2 linked regions of the Homo sapiens genome follow. The protein of the gene in region 2 purifies or fractionates together with the protein of the main gene of each other region. This does not show direct contact. Each region holds a gene or a part of one and is shown on either strand. Other genes may lie near its edges.

Region 1 (5,492 bases), on a different chromosome or scaffold from region 2:
CAGCTAGAAAGTAACTAGGACTTTGGAGCTCCTCCAGTGACCCACATTCTGCGTGAGGCCCACTGGGTTCTCACCAGCATCCCCCCGAGGTGGGCATGTCAGCTGTGAAAGACCAAAAAGCACATGGGAAATGTGAAGAACTGAAGTCCTCTGCCTTGGGGTCATGCAGATCAGACTTGCCTTGGCCTGACTGTTGTTAGTGGAAGGTATAGGAAAAAAGTCTACAAATCAGTCGGAACTGCAGTACAGAGTTTCGTAATTTATGTATTCAAATTTCTTTCCAGATGATTTAATGGAGGGAGAAACAGATAGCTTCCCTGTCGTCTTTACTGGCAATCTGCATGCTGAGAAAGCTCAGCTGTCAGAGAAGAGGCAATGCTTTTCTGGAGAACGCTTCCAGGCAACATGCGTGAACACACGTGCCCCACATAGCTCAGCTTCCCTGCCACCAAAGTGTAGTGATGCTTCCAGGAGGGACAAAACCAAACCAGAGACAGAAATGCATACAGAATTATTTTATTTAACTTAAACCATGTAGTACTTTACTAGAAAAAAGCAGAGTAAGAGAAACTAACGTTGCCTTAGCTTCAGCCATTCAAAATAGACAGTTTCTTTTTTCCATTATGTAAAGAATCCAGAGTATATCGCAATAACAGGAATAAATTCTTACAACAGAATATACAAAAACATTTTGAAATTTTTTTCATCTACTGATTTTTTATATAAACAGGATTTTTTAGGAATAATTTATACACAGAAAGTCATTTTATGTAACAAATTGGCCATGTTATTACCTTTTTTTTTCTTACTTAAAAAAATTTTTTTTTAACAAGAAAACTCAGAAAATGCATTATTTGCGGTGCATCCATTCCATCCCGCCTTCTGGTTTGATTTTTTTTATCCCAGACAAAGGGATACCCAGAGGTAGACAAACTCTGGCAAACCTCTCACCTCAACCTCACTGGCTTAGAAAGCAGACAGGTGTTTTCACCGGGCGTCTCTTCCACCGGTGGATGTGTGTGTGCAACGCCAAACATCCAAATGAAAAGTTGAAAACAAAACCCAAATAGTTTCCAGATCTTTCTCCTATGTAGCGCAAAAACCCCAGGTGTTTCCCATGATAGAGATATTGTGGAGTTGGGGAGACATGGCCAACAATCCACTGGAGTTAGAGGAAGTGGAGTCAACTTTAAAACCAATTTTTGTGTATGTTATAGTTTTTATTAAAAATTCTTTTCTGTATTGGAAATACGTATCTTCGGGGTTCTGCCTTAAATAAAATAGGGTCTCTTCTGTGTTCTAACAAAGCAGTAATCAGTCATGATACGAGGCATGTAAGCAAATGGCCTGTGTGCCCCATAGCTGTCATCGTTTATGTGATCACTGTGTATGCTGTAATCATCATGAAAACCATTGGCTGTGCAGTCAAGTCTTCCCATGTCCATGGCACTGTGCTGACAATGACGGCAGCCAGACCAATCAAGCCAGATGCCGAACGGTGCCATGCACTGCTGGGCTCCAACACCTCGGCTGTTTCCATGGCCAATGAGGTTCTTTCCATCTGTTAAAGTAGCTACACTCCAAAGGGAAATGACCAGTAAAAAATGATCCCCTTCCCAACCAGAGGGTTCTGGAAGACCAAGATACTGAAGATACAGAACTACTTTTTAAATCATCATCATTCCTTTGTTATAAACTAGGGCAAAAAGCATGGGGGGAAAAGAGGGTGAACCACGGATGGGGTCAGGGAGAAATCCTTTTTTGGCATATTGTAAAGCTAGCTAGTAAACAGGTGTCCTAAAAAAAAAAAAAAAAAATGGATCACAAACACACATTTGCACACACAGAGAAAAAAAAAGTGTCTTTAAATTATTTTCGGCAATTATAAACTACAAACATTTTATAAAATTATTCTGTTCTTACAAAAATGCAATGAAACATTTAATTAGTTCTTGTAAACCAGATCTTCGTCAACTGACTACCCGTAATCTACTGGACTTAAGAGCCCTATTGAAAACGCTAATGAGTGACTAGTTAAAACAATGTTGACCAGAAAGATGCGGACACACACACGTGGGACATAAAAATGAGTGATCGTTATGTTCTCGCAGAAACAAAACGCTAAAGTCATGCCCCAGAACTGACAACTGACGAGTGCGATGTAGTTTGTGTTCTTGAACAATTCGCCTTAACTCCGAGATCAGTTTCCAGAGTAGGATGTTAGGTTTCTTTGTTGAAACCAAATGCCCACGGATGACTGCTGAGCCTCGATGTGGTCTGATAGCTTCAAGAACAATCAAGTTCAAAACCTTGCCCACATTCCTTCCAAGCCCTGCACCCTGCTGCTCGTAACTCTTCTCTGTGCCAGGATCCCTGTGACAATGGTTCTGTACCCACCACCCGGTCATTCCACCATCAAGGAGCACTCACTTCTCCAAATGACGCAACCAGTCATCTAAGATGAAGGCCAAAAATGAAACCCTCTGACCTGTCCAAGGTCTGTATCTTCAGCATCTCTGGCAACAGAGGTTCAGTCTAAATAACATCCTCTCTTGAAGTTCTCATTTGTACCACCAGCTACTTCAGAGTGAAGAAAGAAAGTGTCTTTCGCCACTGGTTCTTAAGGAGTGGATCTCTGGTCCACATCTCCCAATGCTGCTTAGCCCAGGAAATGAAGACAGCTGACAACACAGAGGAACATTAACGAAAAGAACAAACCCCAAACTTGAAATGCATAACTGGGACTGCTGGAATGGGCCAAGGCATACCACGGCGGGTCACTGTCACCAGGAGGGCGCCTGTGTTTTAGAAGGGAGTGGCCAACACCGTCTGGCCACCCTGGAAGGAGCCAACGTGACAGCTAAGAACACTAGACAAGCATCCTAGCCTTCTCACCCATCGATCTCAGTGTGATCTTGCCACAGAGCCACTGGCAAGCCATTCGGCTGCCAGCCTGCAGAGGTGGACTGCTGTGGGAAAAGCTTCAGTGGAACAAACTGGCCTAGAATCTGGTGCCAGAGAATAGTTGGCTCATAAATCTTTTATCCCAAAGCACCCCAATGTGCACCGAGCATCTCGCCATTTGGTAGTTCCACAGTGACTGCTCTTCTATTTTACGAAGCCACTTTTCGTACCATTGAAATGTGACTCCGCATCTTAAGAAACAGGCCAGGAGAGGCCAGGTCGGCCACGAACACGGTCTTCCATCTTCCAAGGAGGAGGCTCGTTCCAAAGGTATGTCAAACGTCATGACATCCCACGAAGGAGACCTGGGGTGGTCTGGGTCTTGATCAAGTTCAACAGTGTCTCCAGTACACACCAGCTCCTGCTGCCTCAGGGAAGGGCTGTGTGGGAGAACGTCTTAATGCTCACATCAATTCCATGATGTGCCTCAGTGGTTCATATGACTTCAAGCAGTGTGAGCTGCTGGCAGAAGGAGGTTGCATGGAAAATGCCACAACTCAGCTTAAGATTATTTGGAACACACAGAGAAAAATCAAGAGGCAGAGAAATCAGCATGAAGTTAGGCTAGAACTGTGGATAGATGATGCCTTGGTATAGTCAAGGTGGGTGGGTTGGTCCAGTAAAGTGACTGCACCATCACACAAGCCAAGTTTTCTCTTTTATTGAGGTGTTTCTGAAGCATTTGCTATGATGGGCACTACACTGTTAGTGTTTTCTACTTAAAAGCTACCTACATAAAACAAAAACAAAATGACATCAGTAACTCGGACAGTTTAAACAAAACCCTTATAACCAGCTGAATGATCTGTAGAAATCCAGTTGTGGAAACCGGTAGGTATGTGCACGAGAGGAGAGGCCGTTATTCCAAGGGGTCACCTACAGTGTGGAAGAACAAAACCCTGATCCAACAGTATTTCTCAATGACCTTAAGATCCCCGGGGTCCTGGGAGAGATGGGTCGCGTTCCAGCAGGAGGCTCCTGAGCGCCTTCACTTAGGCTGGAATTGCCGAGGAGCCATCCACGCTTAGGCAAAGCTGCCCGCCACACTTCCCAGCGAAATCATCAGTGCCTGTAAGAGCAGCTGCTGGAAGAGGGGAGCGAGCCGTCTGTCCTGTGAGCAGCAGGACCAGGGAGACGGAGGTACAGCCCTGGCGGGGGGGGCGTGACGCCACGAGCCTCGGCGCCGGCCACTGGGCTTTCCAGCCGGAAGGTTTGGTACATCTCTGTCTACCCCTAGGGAAGGAGGTGAGGGAGAAGTTGAGAGGGCAGCCTGGAGGGGGAGGGGACTCTGCTCCTGCGTGTGTTCTATCAGGGACTGGCTGTGAGGTCAGGAGCCTCTGCATTCTGGCGCACAGGCTGGGTGACTCTTGCTCTCCAGCTGCTGCTGCAGCTGCACCTTTGTGCTCAATGAATGCAGCAGCCATGGCCGCACGGTCCTGCCTCAGCGCGAGCCTCCTGCAGGGATGGAGCAGCAGCAAGGGGAGCAAACCCAATGCCCCACGCCTTTACCCTGGGGATTCGCACAGAGATGGTGCTGCCTGGACACCTTCCTCTCCTCAGAACCTGAGGAACCACTGCTCTCTTAAGGACGAAATGTGTTGGTCATTCCATCTGCACAGAAGCAGTTTGTTCCAAAGACAACCAGCCAGGGACAGCCTGGTGGCTCCCCCAGGTGTGCTCTGGTGCCCTCGTTGGCCTCACAGGGCCACCTGGCTAGGAGGAGGAGAAATCTAACACCTTGGTGGAAACCAAGATAGAAAACAAAACAAAAAAAGCAACACAAAACAGGACATCTCAGAAAAAGGCAAGCTGTCTGAAATGAGCAGAGAGGTGAGTTAGTGTTGCTTTGACCCCGGAATACAGCCTGGCTTCCCCCTGCATCACCTGGGTGTGGCGCCTGTGGCGTGGATGAGGTTACCAGTATCAACGGCCTATTGTCAGGTGCTGAGAAAGGTGAGATGTATTCTTTTGTCTATATACACATATAAAAAATAAGAGTGAGGTAGATAAATGTTTGGGGGAAAAAAAACCCAAAAAATCAAGAACTGTCCCATCACTCTCACACACACACACCCCACACATACACACACACACACCCTTTCCTTGAAATTTAAATTCATAATGGGGCTTTTCTACAGTGATTGAAACTGGTAATTTATCACAAAATAAATTAAAAGAAAACTCCTACATATAATACCTTTTTTTTTTTTTTAAAGGGAACACGCTATGGGATAGAGACTAGAGAAAGCAGTGGGACAAACTGCTGACCAGCAAAAAAGCCGTATAAACTTTCTTTTCTGTGTTGAATCTTCAGTCACAACTAGCAATCACCGTATCCCAGCTTTGTTCTTACTCCTAAACATTTCTATCCCAGAAGCAACTCTTGTGCTGTCATCTCTCTGGTGAGAAGTGCTAAAAATGAAACAAGACAAGACCCCTGGGCCCCAAGGACCTGGATTCCTGGCCGAGGGAAAGTGGGCCAGCACCACAGCCCTGGTCCCCCAGCAAGAAGCAAAGGGGCTCTTGGG
Region 2 (7,959 bases):
TCCACCTCCTGGGTTCAAGCGATTCTCATGCCTCAGCTTCCTGAGTAGCTGGGATTAGAGGTGCCTGCCATCATGCCTGGCTAATTTTTTTTTTGAAACGGAGTCTCACTCTGTCGCCCAGGCTGGAGTGCAGTGGTGCGATCTCGGCTCACTGCGACCTCTGCCTCCCGGGTTCACGCCATTCTCCTGCCTCAGCCTCCCGAGTAGCTGGGACTACAGGCACCCACCACCACGCCCGGCGAATTTTGGTATTTTTAGTAGAGATGGGGTTTCACTGTGTTAGTCAGGATGGTCTCAATCTCCCGACCTCGTGATCCACCTGTCTCAGCCTCCCAAAGTGCTGGGATTACAGGCGTGAGCCACCACGCCCGGCCGCTAATTTTTATATTTTTAGTATAGATGGGGTTTCCCCATGTTGGCCAGGCTGATCTCAAACTCCTGACCTCTAGTGATCCGCCCGCCTCAGCCTCCCAGAAGGCTGGGATTACAGGCTTGAGTCACTGTGTCTGGCCTGTATTTTGTATTTTTTTAGTAGAGACGAGGTTTCCCCATGTTAGCCAGGCTGATCTCCAACTTCTGACCTCAGGTGATCCACCCGCCTCAGCCTCCCAAAGTGCTGGGATTACAGGCGTGAGCCACCGTGCCCGGCCTTAGGTTGCAGTGAGCTGAGATTGAGCCACTGCACTCCAGCCTGGGTGACAGAGCAAGACTTTGTCTCAAAAAATAAATAAATAAATAAATTAATTAAATTAAATAAAACCACCCAGTGATGGAGCTCCTAATATCTCTGTTTTACAGGTGAGGAAACTGAGGCAGAGAGAGGTCAAGTGTTTCAAGGTCACAGAGGGAGTAAATGGTGGGAATTAATAGAAACCAAGGCAGTCTGGCTCCGAGTCCATCCTCTCGATCAATATTACACTATCTGTCTCTGCAGTTGGCATAAATAGTTTGTTGAATTGAAGGTTATTTGCTTTCCAGTTGCTGAAACAATTTAAGCCTGGACTCCACCCATTGCTGGGAGGGTAAGGAAGTGTTTGGCAACCCCAGTGATCTGGCCAATTGTGGGCCTGTTCTTTGAAGCACCACCTTACTCCTTCCAATCCACTCTGCCTCAGCAGTGATCCCTGGAAAGGATCCTCAGATAGATAGCAGAAACGTGAAATCCTGCCAACTAGCCCATCCCTCTTCCAAGTCTACCACCCCATTCCCAGAGGACCCCAATGGGCAGGTTACCACAGTGTCTGGGTAAGACCTAACCATCTTTCCATCTGGTCTCCAGCTCTGACAGCTGGAGCATATAGGAGAGCAATGACCCTGGCCTTTGGCCCTACATGGTTTCTACCATAGGCCCAGTTTCTGCTACAACTTCACTTGCCCCTTCTTCCCAGAAAGCCAAGCTGTCCAAAGGTTGTAAGGCAAAGGGTATGGAGGGCCCCAGGTATTCCTAACCAATAAAAGAGAATACACATCGATATGGTAGCCGCTAGAATAAACACCCTATCTTTCATCCCAACTTGGGAGCTGAGTGCCGTGGCATCATCCAGGCTCTCCCTCCCCTTTGCTTCTGGTTTTCCTCTTTGTCCCAGGGTGTCCTCCCATTAGGAGCCCTGGCACAGGGCTGTGACAGCCACAATCAGTGGGCCAACTGGAGTGTGGTTCTGGGGCAATTGCCCTGGAGCAGCTGCAAGGCACTTGCCCTTTGGATCCTAACCCAGCCACCTCCTGCCAGGCTGGGGAGGAGCAGCGTGCATATACTAGGCTGGCCAAGGAGGCAGAGTGTGGGGATGACCAGGGAGGTGCCCAGTGGGAGCAGGGGTAGCTGAAGCAGATGTCCTTTCACACTTCCTGCTATTCGCTCCATTTCCTGTGGCCCAGAATTTCATGGGGGTGAGGGAAATTGTGCCAAGTTAGCAGTCTCCTTTGGTCCATCCGTCCCACTCCCTGAACCACATGACGGAAATCAGGGGCCTCCCACAAGTCAGCAACTTCCCCTTTCTCTGGGATGTTTAAACCCTGATCCAGGAGACGGATCATCTCTCTGATGATCTCTTTCTGATGCTCGTCTACTTGATGCTCAGAAACCCGGGTTCTCATACTCTATAGGTTGGAAGTGGGGTTGATATGATGTTTTGCAGAGCAAGCCAGAGCTCAGGACCAATTCCCTATTCCTGATACCCTCTGAGTTGAGGCCTACAGCCCCAACCTTTTCGTCTTTTGCTCCCGCTCCCCTGCGACTCAGGCATCCACCCCTTGCCCCTTGGGGGTGTTGAGTCACAACAGGAAGTGGATTTTGCTAGAGACCAAAAAAGAGAACTCGGGGTATCAGTGGAAGGAAAGAGCCTCGATTGCACAGAAAACATCCGGGGAGTGGACGCGCGCCCAGGGTGAATACTGCCTCCCCCACCCCCAGAGAGAGGGATACGATCTAGTTTCAGGGAGGGTCGCCACGCACTCGGCTCCCCCAAGATGAAGCTGTTGCTCCTGGCAACCCAAGGGAAGGTAGAAGTTTGGGTGAGGAGCCACCCGGCCCTCGGGACAGGTGTGGGCAGCGCGACTACCTGGGGGATATTGGATAGGAGGCTTTCCATTGGCTTGGCGCGAGTCTGGAGTGGATCCCCCCCGTCCCGGCATCCAGCCTCCCCGTACACGACCCCTCGGGGCCAGCCACCTGCTCCTCCTTCCTCCATCCCTGCATCGCAGCCTGCACGGGAGAGCCCAGTAGTCTGGCCCCACATCCCTGCGAGAACCCCGACACCGGTTTTTCTGATCCCCCTCAGGCCTCGCTTTCTGCAGGGGCCCGGGCATTTCCCCCCCACCCTCATTATCCTCGAGGACCTGCGCGTGCGGCCCCGGATGGCTGTCCCTAGGGACCCAGGCGTCCGGCCCCCAGATCCTCTCCGCTGCGCCCTCGTCTGGGACCGTCCCAGCCCCCGCCCCGAGCCGCCGCCCATGCCCCGCCGCGTGGCCCCACCTCCCTTACCTGGTCCCGGGTTTCTCCCCCATGGTGCGCGCGCCCGCCGCCCGCTCGGTTCGCGGCTCGCTCGCAGCCTCCTCGCCCGCTGCCAAGATCCCTGCTCCTCCCCGCGCCAATGCGCACGCGCGCCCTCCGCGCTCTCGCCTCTTCCCCCTCCCTCCCGGCCCCGCTCTGGTCTTGGGGAACCGGGGCCAGATGCGTCAGCCGGATCGCGCGCGCCGCGGCGCTGCCCGCCCTCTCCTAGCAGACACGCGGGGCCATTGGCTCCGCCCCCAGCCCTTCGCGCTCCTTCCCAGCCTGGTAGCCCTCCCCCGCGCGCGGGGCCAGCTCCCACTCCTCCCGCCCATCTCCCCGCCCCGCTGCAACCCCTTGAAACCGATTGGACCCCCCTAAACCAAGGCGCCCGCCTTCCAGGGGATCTAAGTCTTTCGATTGGCCTTCGGCATCCAGAACCTGCAGGGGTCTCCTCCCCTTTGTTTGCTTTCTCAGTGGCGGTGGGGGCGACCGGGCTGCTGGGGGCGGTGGAATGAGCTGAAGCGCCGTCTGGGAAGGAGGATGGTGGGGGGGAACACGTGGGTGAGCGGTTCAATTGCGTGATGCTTGCTTCAGTGCGCGCCGCTCACCTGCTCCACTCGGAGCGTGCCGCCTTCTGTGGCCAGCCCTCCCGCTTCTTCACTGCAGCGTGTCAGCTCCTCCTGGTGTTTGCATTTGATCTTCGCAGGGTTCCCTTTTCCAATGTCTCTGACTATCCATCTCCTTCACCCACCCATCCCAGCTAACATCCACTCACTCACCCGCTCCCATCCATCGGTCCATCTATGGACCCATCCATCCGTGCCTATGTTATGCTATTCACTATGCCAATCGATGGGGACACATACGAATTACCATGGCCCCTGCCTTCCTAGAATAGTTGAGGAGACACATACACAGGTATTACCCAGGAATGCTATTACAGAGGTCTGAGTCAGAAGACACAGCCGCTAACAGCAATTGGCCCGGGCGGGGGTGGAGGGAGTGCAGGCTGTCCAGAGCGGGGAACAGATGAGGACAGTCTTTCTGAAGGATGCGCAGAAGTTTTTTTTCTTTTTCTTGTTTTTTTTTTTTTTTTTGAGACAGAGTCTCACTCTGTCGCCGAGGCTGGAGTGCAGTGGTGAGAGGTGACAGCGTGCTGGCAGCTCTCACTCACTCTCGGCGCCTCCTCGGCCTTGGAACCCACTCTGGCCGCGCTTGAGGAGCCCTTCAGCCCGCCACTGCACTGTGGGAGTTCCTTTCTGGGCTGTCCAAGGCCGGAGCCGGTTCCCTCAGCTTGCGGGGAGGTGTGGAGGGAGAGGCGCGGGCGGGAACCCGGGCTGCGCGCGGTGCTTGCGGGCCAGCGCGAGTTCCGGGTGGGCGTGGGCTCGGCGGCTCCGCACTCGGAGTGGCCGGCCAGCCCCGGGCAGTGAGGGGCTTAGCACCTGGGCCAGCAGCTGCTGTGCTCAATTTTTCGCTGGGCCTTAGCTGCCTTCCCTCGGGGCAGGGCTCGGGACCTGCAGCCCGCCATGCCTGAGCCTCCCCTCCCCCTCCGTGGGCTCCTGTGCGGCCCGAGCCTCTCCGACGAGCACCGCCCCCTGCTCCAAGGCACCCAGTCCCATCGACCACCCAAGGGCTGAGGAGTGCAAGCACATGCGGACTGGCAGGCAGCTCCACCTGCGGCCCCCAAGCGGGATCCACTGGGTGAAGCCAAATGGGCTCCTGAGTCTGGTGGGGACTTGGAGAACCTTTATGTCTAGCTAAGGGATTGTAAATACACCAATCGGCACTCTGTATCTAGCTCAAGGTTTGTAAACACACCAATCAGCACCCTGTGTCTAGCTCAGGGTTTGTGAATGCACCAATCCACACTCTGTATCTAGCTACTCTGGTGGGGACTTGGAGAACCTTTGTGTCTACACTCTGTATCTAGCTAATCTAGTGGGGACGTGGAGAACTTTTGTGTCTAGCTCACGGATTGTAAATGCACCAATCAGCACCCTGCCAAAACAGACCAATCAGCTCTCTGTAAAATGGACCAATCGGCTCTCTGTAAAATGAACCAATCAGCAGGATGTGGGTGGGGCCGATTAGAGAATAAAAGCAGGCTGCCTGAACCGGCAATTGCAATGCACTGGGGTACTCTTCTGTTAGGTAGACCTTTTGTTCTTTTGTTTTTTGCGGTTAAATCTTGCTGCTGCTCCTTTTTTGGGTCTACACTGCCTTTATGAGCTGTAGTACTCGCTGGGAAGGTCTGCAGGTTCACTCCTGAAGCCAGTGAAACCACGAACCCACTAAGAAGAATGAATAACTTCGGAGACACGGCCTTAAGGGGGGTAACACCGCAAAGGCCTGCAGCTTCACTCTTGAGCTAGCGAGACCACGAACCCACCAGAAGGAAGAAACTCTGAACACATCCGAACGTCAGAAGGAACAAACTCCGGATATGCTGCCTTTAAGAACTGTAACACTTGCTGTGAGGGTCCATGGCTTCATTCTTAAAGTCAGTGAGACCCCCTACAAATTCTGGACACTGGTGTTGTGTCGGCTCACTGCAACTTCCATCTCCTGGGTTCCAGCTGTTCTGCCTCAGTCTCCCGGGTAGCTGGGATTACAGGTGTCCACTACCACGCCTCGCTAGTTTATATATATATATTTTAGTAGAGATGGGGTTTCAATATGTTGGCCGGGTTGCTCTTGAACTCCTGACCTCAAATGATCCGCCTGCTTGCGCCTTCCAAAGTGCTGGAATTATAGATGTGAGCCACTGCGCCCAGCCTCTTTTTTTTTTTCTTTTTTAGGAGATGGAGTCTCACTCTGTCACCCTGACTGGAGTGCAGTGGTGGGATCTCGGCTCAACAAAACCCCTGCCTCTTGGGTTCAAGCAATTCTGTGCCTCAGCCTCGTGAGTATCTGGTATTACAGACACCTGCAATGCCTGGCTACTTTTTGTATTTTTAATAGAGACGGGGTTTCACCATGTTGGCCAAGCTGGTCTCGAACGCCTGACCTTGTGTTCCACCTGCCTCAGCCTCCCAAAGTGCTGGAATTGCAGGTGTGAGCCACCGCGCCTGGCTGGGCAGAAGTTGAGAAAGGGCATTTCAAAGAGAGAGACAAGGCACGTCCTGTTGCGTAGTGTTGGTGGGGAAGTCTGGAACAGGCTGTGGAGGATTTTGTATAGCAGATGGAGTGAGATGGAGGGCCCCACAGAAGGACATGTGGAACCAGTACTGGTTTTTAAAGCAGAGGGGGTTGGGTGCAGTGGCTCACGCCTGTAATCCCAGTACTTTGGGAGGCCGAGGGGGGTGGATCACCTGAGGTCAGGAGTTCGAGACCAGTCTGGCTAACATCGTGAAATTTAGCCTATAATCCCAGCTACTCGTGAGGCTGAGCCAGAAGAATCACTTGAACCTGGGAGACGGAGGTTGCAGTGAGCTGAGATCGTGCCGTTATACTCCAGCCTGAGTGAGAATAGTGAAACTTCGTCTCAAAAACAAACGGGCCGCGCGTGGTGGCTCACGCCTGTAATCCCAGCACTTTGGGAGGCTGAGGTGGGCGGATCACGAGGTCAGGAGATCAAGACCATCCTGGCTAACGTGGTGAAACCCTGTCTCCACAAAAAAGTACAAAAAATTAGCCGGCATGGTGGCAGGCGCCTGTAGTCCCAGCTACTTGGGAGGCTGAGGCAGGAGAATGGCCTGAACCTGGGAGGCAGAGCTTGCAGTGAGCCAAGATCGCGCCACTGCACTCCAGCCTGGGTGACAGTGCGAAACTCCATCTCGAGGAAAAAAGAAAACAAAAAACCTCCGAAAAACGAAAAATGAGCCAAATATAGTGGCTAGTGCCTAGAGTCTCATGTACTAGGGAGGCTGAGGTGGGAGGATCGTTTGAGCTGGGAGGTCAAGGCTGCAGTGAGCTGTGATCATGCCACTGCACTCCAGCCTGGGGAAATATTTTTTCAGCACCTTTTATGTACCAGGCACTGTTCTAGGTGATAGGAATAGCATAGTGTAGGAGACAGGAGCCCTTTCATGGAGTTTGTATTTTAGACAAGAGATAGTTAATAAGAAAGCAAATTTCTGGTAATGACATGAATTATAAACAGGCAAATGTGATGGAGGCTGATGGGGGTTGGAGTGGGAGCTACCGAAAAAGAAGTCGTCTCAGGATGGCAAAATGGCGTTAGTTACATAGAATCAAAGGACAGTTTCTCCAGCATAATCAGCAACATGTGCAAAGGTTCGGATGTGAGAATGGGCTTTGCTGGAAAATAGAAGGCTAGCGTGGCTCAAGAATAGGAAGAGAGAAGGAAAAGGGTACTTGTGGTATGTGTTGAGGTCAGGGAGGTGGGTATGAGTCAGATTGGGTGGATTCTTTTAGGCCTCAGTGACGAGATGGGATTTCATTCTCATCACATTTGGAAGCCACAGAGGGGTTGAAGCTAGGAGTGACAACAACTTGTTTACATTTGAAAAGACCACTTTGGTTGCTGTGTGAAGGGACTACAGGGTGCTAAGAGGGAAGCAGAGAGCAACGAAGGCTTTGTAATAGACTAGGTGAGAGTGAATGGTAATTTGGACCGGAGCGGCAGTGGAGATGGAGAAAAATTAACGCTATTGGGTTAATGTATTTTGGAGGCCTTGAATGCCAGGACTTGAAGGATTGGATAGGAGGCAATAAGAGGAAAAACGGGCCAGGTGGGGTGGCTCACACCTGTAATCCCAGGACTTTGGGAGGCTGAGGCCGGCAGATCACTTGAGGTCAGGAGTTTGAGACCAGCCTGGCCAACATGGTGAAGCCCCGTCTCTACTAAAAATACAAAAATTAGCTGGGCATGGTGGTGGGTGCCTGTACTTCCAGCTACTTGGGAGGCTGAGGTAGGAGAATCACTTGAACTTGGGAGGCGGAGGTTGCAGTGAGCCGAGATCGTGCCATTGCACTCTAGCCTGGGCGACAGAGAGACTCCTCAAAAA

The links. Proteins that work in one complex are often made in the same cells at the same time.
Region 1: the proteins of ARRB2 (region 2) and IGF1R purify together in Homo sapiens (affinity purification with western blotting; 4 studies listed by BioGRID). This does not show direct contact.

Annotation. Positions count from the first base shown.
Region 1 is NC_000015.10:98,959,539-98,965,030, reverse strand, and holds the end of IGF1R (insulin-like growth factor 1 receptor isoform 1 precursor), read right to left. Parts: 3' UTR 501-5,492; downstream 1-500. UniProt on the Homo sapiens protein: Receptor tyrosine kinase which mediates actions of insulin-like growth factor 1 (IGF1). Binds IGF1 with high affinity and IGF2 and insulin (INS) with a lower affinity. The activated IGF1R is involved in cell growth and survival control.
Region 2 is NC_000017.11:4,705,766-4,713,724, reverse strand, and holds the start of ARRB2 (beta-arrestin-2), read right to left. Parts: upstream 3,094-7,959; 5' UTR 3,004-3,093; coding exon 2,981-3,003; intron 2,967-2,980; exon of another isoform or gene 2,952-2,966; coding exon of another isoform or gene 2,836-2,951; intron 1-2,835. UniProt on the Homo sapiens protein: Functions in regulating agonist-mediated G-protein coupled receptor (GPCR) signaling by mediating both receptor desensitization and resensitization processes.